Regions from separate parts of the Homo sapiens genome. Here region 1 is linked to region 2. Evidence: fine-mapped expression QTL. A gene starts in region 2. The other region holds a variant in brackets. All regions are shown on one strand. Distances are between the middles of the regions. Region 1 overlaps LIG3 (DNA ligase 3). Region 2 holds the start of ZNF830 (zinc finger protein 830).

Region 1 (2,911 bases), 29 kb after region 2:
AAGGCTCAGCAGGAGGTGTGGCATGAGCATCCTGAATAGGCCTTTCCTCCGGAGAGCTCAAGGCCATGGCTGCCTTCCTGGGCATGTGAGCTGTATAGTTGCCCGGGATCCCATGCTTGGTTTAATGCTGTACTGTAGTGCTATCTGGAAATTCTTAATAATTTTGAACAAGGGGCCTCGCATTTGCATTTTGCACTGTACTCCACAAATTATGTAGCCAGTTTTTCTCAGAGCACTTTGGCATCTGTCTTCCTCTCCCCTTATTCTGCTCCTAGGAGGCCAGAAGAACCCATCCTATTTGACTAGTTAGAAAATTTACTGTCCTACATATTTAATTAGGTTTTTGTGAACCATATACACAGTTTGGAATAGAATCTTCCAACTCTGTTTCTTTCATTTATCTAACAAATTGTCGATGAGCATCTCTGATGTCCTTGTCACTGGGCACGTGAAGTGAAACTAACCACTCTGTCCAACAAGAGTTCATCTGTAGGCTAAAGGTGAGGCAGACACAATCCACCAGCCTCTGAACTCCATGCTGTCTCCTACTATAGCGATATGCACAGGGTACTATAGGAGCATGGGCAGCGATATATAGATATCTTTTGGTCTCTGCTTCTTTGAGTTTGTTTGTTTGTTTATTTATTGAGACAAAAAATGTGGCTGTGTTGCCCAGGCTGGAGCGCATGGGTGCAATCTCAGCTCACTGCAACCTCCGCCTCCTGGGCTCAAGCAGTCCTTCTGCCTCAGCCTCCCAAGTAGCTGGGACTATAGGCATGTGCCGCTATGCCTGGCTAATTTTTGTATTTTTTGTAGAGACGGGGTTTTGCTGTTTTGCCCAGGTTGGTCTCAAACTCCTGGATTCAATTAATCTGCCTACCTCAACCTGCTAAAGTGCTGGGATCACAGGCGTGAGCCACCATGCGCGGTCTGAGTTTATTTTTTTATTTATTTTTGTGTGTGTGTGTGAGACAGTGTCTTGCTCTGTCGCCCAGGCTGGAGTACAGTGGTGTGATCACAGCTCACTATAGCCTCGACCTCCTGAGCTAAAGCAACCCTCCTGTCTTCTCCTGCAAGTAGCTGGAACCATAGGCATATGCCACCATGTCCAGCTAATTTTTTAATTTTTTGTAGAGATGGGGTCTTTCTTTGTTGCCAGGGTGGTCTCAAACTTGTGAGCTTAAGCAATTCTCCTGCTTCGGCCTCCCAAAGTGCTGAGATTACAGGTGTGAGCCACCTTGCCCAGCCTTCTTTGAGTTTATATATTTATTTGTTTAAGCTCTATTTCTCAAGAAGGGTTCCTTCTGTCTCCAGATGGTTTCCACGGTGATGTGTACCTAACAGTGAAGCTGCTGCTGCCAGGAGTCATTAAGACTGTTTACAACTTGAACGATAAGCAGATTGTGAAGCTTTTCAGTCGCATTTTTAACTGCAACCCAGATGATATGGCACGGGACCTAGAGCAGGTCAGAGGAACGGGAGGGAGGGTAGGCTACATTCCAGGTGGGGTTTTGCCAAGCCAGGCACCTGCAGCCTCTTTTTTTTTTTCTGGTTGGGACACATACTGTTTTAGGAAACTGAAACCCATTTGAGCAAGCTTCCGTTATAGGGGGAGCTGAATGTGAGGCTATAGCTCTTAATTTC[T/G]TAAGTTTCTGAGGGTGGAAACCATACAACTGCTGAACCACAAAGGCCTGGTTCTCAAAAGGCAGAATTTGAGACTTGCCCCCTCTGTCTCTCCTGGGGCTTTTATTCTGGACTCTTTTTTTCTTGCTTGTTTTCTCCTATAACTTGGCTTTACCAAGCTTTGGTTTGTCCGTGACTCTATCCCTGGTACCATGGCAAGTTTCCATCCCCTTCTAGGAATTGTGGATGGGCTAGTGTCTCTAAGAAGTGGGCTAGATATGTTGAGTTGGGATAGGAGCTATGATTGAAATTTCTTGATTCATCTTCAGTCCTGGGTCTTGGGGGATACACTTGGCCACCCTAGGGTTGCAGCAGTGGCATTTTGGTTTTTGGAGACAGGGTGACGTGTCAGAGACAATCAGAGTCTTCTTTGAGCAGAGCAAGTCTTTCCCCCCAGCTGCCAAGAGCCTCCTTACCATCCAGGAAGTGGATGAGTTCCTTCTGCGGCTGTCCAAGCTCACCAAGGAGGATGAGCAGCAACAGGCCCTACAGGACATTGCCTCCAGGTGGGGGAGCTGCCTCCGTCAAACCATGCCCATAGAGAGATGAACTCTCTTGGGAAGGGAAGGTTCCCTTGGGGTTCCAGAGCTCTTCAAGACCAAGTTAAATGTGCTTCATCCCCCTAGGTGTACAGCCAATGACCTTAAATGCATCATCAGGTTGATCAAACATGATCTGAAGATGAACTCAGGTGCAAAACATGTGTAAGTAGCAGCTCCGCTGACAGCCTGAGCTGTCATTTGTTAGCTTTGTTTGTTCCCAACTGGTGTCAGGACTTTTGAGTCCCAGTCAGGATTTGAATCCCCCTTCCACCTTCTTACTTTCTGTGAGACCCTGATCTGTCACTTGACCTGTCTCTGCCTCCATTTTTTCCCATATAAAATGGAGATAACAGTACCTTTCTCACAGAGTTCTTACAGTTGAAGTGTGGCATACGTTCAGTGAGTATAGTATGAGTCTCTTGCCTACTCCAGCCCCCTCCTCGCTAAGGCGGCATCCACATAGGCACAGTATCTCAAAAGAGCTGAATTTTCCAAGAGCTTTCTCTCCTCTTGTGAAAGTCTTTAGACAATAGAACACAACCCCTTCCCTACAGATGAGGATTTCTTCTGTGAGGACAGATTGCTGTCCAAAGCCATGGAGTCAAACAAAGGCAGTGGTTTTGTTTCCTTGTTCCTGTACCCCTTGGCAGGTTAGACGCCCTTGACCCCAATGCCTATGAAGCCTT
Region 2 (2,911 bases):
AAGTTAAAATCCAAACACAGCAATGACATACTTGACCTTTCCCAATATCTTCCCTGCCTCATCTACTTTTCCACAAGCAAATCTTCTGGTTCCCTTAATATACCATGTTTTGTTTCGTTTCTGTTGGATTTGCACCATTGGTCTTTCTTATTCCTGAAATTACTTTGCCCAGGCCTTTACTCCCTCTTCCAACTAGTGAAGTCTTATTCTTCTTTCAAGACTGATCAAACATGTTACTTAAGATGCTTTTCCTTCTGCCATCAGTCCCTTTCTTCAGCATAATTATATGCATCTATATATAATTAGCACATCCTACTCTACCACATCCGTCTCTACCACATCTCCTTAAGAACAGAAACCGTTATCTTGATCATTTCTGTGTCCCAACAACTGGTACCTAAGTGACTTATTTTACCATTAATATTATTTTGTTCATTACTATGAGGATGTGTCTCTCCTCTTATACCCTTTTGCCCTCACTGGTCTCTTTTCCTCACTCTTGTCTATAGAAAAGGGTGCTTAATATATACTGAAAAGATGAATAGATCTGAACAACCATAGACACGGGGTATTCAAGTAGAACTTGGATTTGACCCCATGCCTTCCTGGCTCCAAAGCCTGTGTCCTCTCCACTACAATACATTGCCATACAAAAAACAAAACTACTTGTTGAATTTATGGACCAAGGGTATACAGTCTTAAGGAGCAGAGGAGTTAAATGCTTTGTTTCCAATGAGACACTAAATTAACTGACTTTCTAACTGCATATGAACCTTGACGACAAGTCGGGGGTCGGGGAAGCGCCACAGCTTCACTCCCGGGGCCCTCTACTAGGGGAGGCTTTTCTCCTCCACCTGCACCAGGCGAGAAATACCCCCAGAGCAGGGATGAGAATGAGGGAAATCAAGCTCGCAAGAACATCCACAGCGCTACGCGGACGCCTGCCTCAGAGGGCGACAGGACACCAACGGGCCCCTAGCCGCGTAATGGCCGCTCCAACCGCTGTCTCACATTTTCATGGTGCCTTTAGGACCCAAGTTGGTCCGCAGCACATCCTGCAGCCCTCGGGCGGCGCATATATTGACAGCCAAAGCTGCCCGGGCCCGCGCCACCTCAGCCTTGGAGTTGACGGCCTTTATCGCAGCCATAGCCTAACCGTTCAGAGGGAGAAAAAAAAAAAGCCTTAGTCGCGATTCTGAGCAAAAACGGCAATGCGACGCCACGCTCTCTTGAGCCTCGGCCAATCATCGCCCTTACAGGAAGTGACGTTATCATGCCTCGCCCGACGGAAACCAGAATCGTTTTGGGTCTGGTCGCCAAGATGGCGTCCTCCGCCTCCGCCCGGACTCCGGCAGGGAAGCGAGTGATAAATCAGGAAGAATTGCGGCGGTTAATGAAGGAGAAGCAGCGTCTGAGCACCAGTCGGAAACGGATAGAATCTCCATTCGCGAAGTACAACCGTTTGGGGCAGCTGAGTTGTGCCCTGTGTAACACTCCGGTTAAGAGCGAGCTCCTGTGGCAGACTCACGTCCTGGGAAAGCAGCACCGAGAGAAAGTGGCCGAGCTGAAAGGCGCGAAGGAAGCCAGCCAGGGTTCGTCCGCCAGTTCAGCGCCTCATTCCGTCAAGAGGAAAGCGCCGGACGCAGACGACCAAGATGTCAAGAGAGCGAAGGCCACCTTGGTGCCTCAGGTACAGCCCTCCACATCTGCGTGGACCACCAACTTTGACAAAATAGGAAAGGAGTTCATTAGAGCGACTCCCAGTAAGCCTTCAGGACTCAGTTTACTCCCCGATTATGAAGATGAGGAGGAGGAGGAAGAGGAGGAGGAAGGAGATGGAGAAAGAAAAAGGGGGGACGCCAGCAAGCCGCTCTCCGACGCACAGGGCAAGGAGCACTCAGTTTCCTCTTCACGGGAGGTAACAAGTAGTGTGCTGCCAAACGATTTCTTTAGTACTAATCCTCCCAAGGCCCCCATAATTCCTCATTCAGGGTCAATTGAGAAAGCAGAAATACATGAAAAAGTGGTGGAAAGGAGAGAAAACACCGCGGAAGCGTTACCGGAAGGTTTTTTTGACGACCCTGAGGTAGATGCAAGAGTACGAAAGGTTGATGCTCCAAAAGATCAGATGGACAAAGAGTGGGACGAATTCCAAAAAGCCATGAGGCAGGTCAACACTATTTCCGAAGCCATAGTTGCCGAAGAGGATGAGGAGGGACGGTTGGACCGCCAGATTGGGGAGATCGATGAGCAGATAGAGTGTTACCGACGGGTGGAAAAGCTACGGAATCGCCAGGATGAAATAAAAAATAAACTTAAAGAAATCCTGACCATAAAAGAACTGCAGAAAAAGGAAGAAGAGAATGCTGACAGCGATGATGAGGGGGAACTACAGGATTTGTTGTCTCAGGATTGGAGGGTGAAAGGGGCATTGTTATAGGGTTTTAAAGACCCAAGGTTTCTAACAGCCTCTGCTGTTGTATAAAAAGTGCTGTCTCTCAGTAGTATAGCGGTTACTTCATGCCTCAAGATTTGGGTACCTGGATTGCTAAACTGGATTGTTGAGATAAAATGAGCCAGTGAGCTACAGCACTTTGGAAAATTTGTGTAACATGTTTTTGAGGTAAAGTTGTTTTTGAAATTTCTGAAGTGTTATATACCAAAATGCCAACATTTCCACGACAGACTTAACTGTATAATTTCGTTGTAAAATCTGTAAGTTGTAAATATTGTACATAGTTAAATCTGTATTCTGTTTTGAATTTTTTTAATTAATAGAAAGACCAACCGGCAAACTTTCAGATGAATGCTTACTGTGGTATTTGGAATGTATGTATCTTCTGAACCCTACATCAAGTTGAAAAGGTTTGTTTTCTTGTTTCTTTGGTTTTTGTATGGTTTTTTAGAACAC

The links.
Region 1: its variant is fine-mapped to the expression of ZNF830 in whole blood (TOPMed, PIP above 0.99).

Annotation. Positions count from the first base shown.
Region 1 is chr17:34,989,649-34,992,559 of GRCh38, forward strand. It overlaps LIG3 (DNA ligase 3), which reads left to right. Exons shown (of 20, transcript NM_013975.4): 4 at 1-15; 5 at 1,315-1,466; 6 at 2,023-2,189; 7 at 2,310-2,387; 8 at 2,876-2,911. Among named protein-coding and RNA genes, the nearest start is that of LIG3, 11 kb to the left of the region's middle. The variant T/G (reference allele first, on the strand shown) is at 1,645.
Region 2 is chr17:34,960,246-34,963,156 of GRCh38, forward strand. It overlaps ZNF830 (zinc finger protein 830), which reads left to right and starts at 1,295. Exons shown (of 1, transcript NM_052857.4): 1 at 1,295-2,911. The coding sequence starts at 1,322. The coding sequence ends at 2,440. It overlaps CCT6B (chaperonin containing TCP1 subunit 6B), which reads right to left and starts at 1,215. Exons shown (of 14, transcript NM_006584.4): 1 at 1,012-1,215. The coding sequence starts at 1,148. RefSeq lists a silencer at 745-1,039 and enhancers at 759-808, 909-1,128, 1,179-1,258, 1,339-1,588.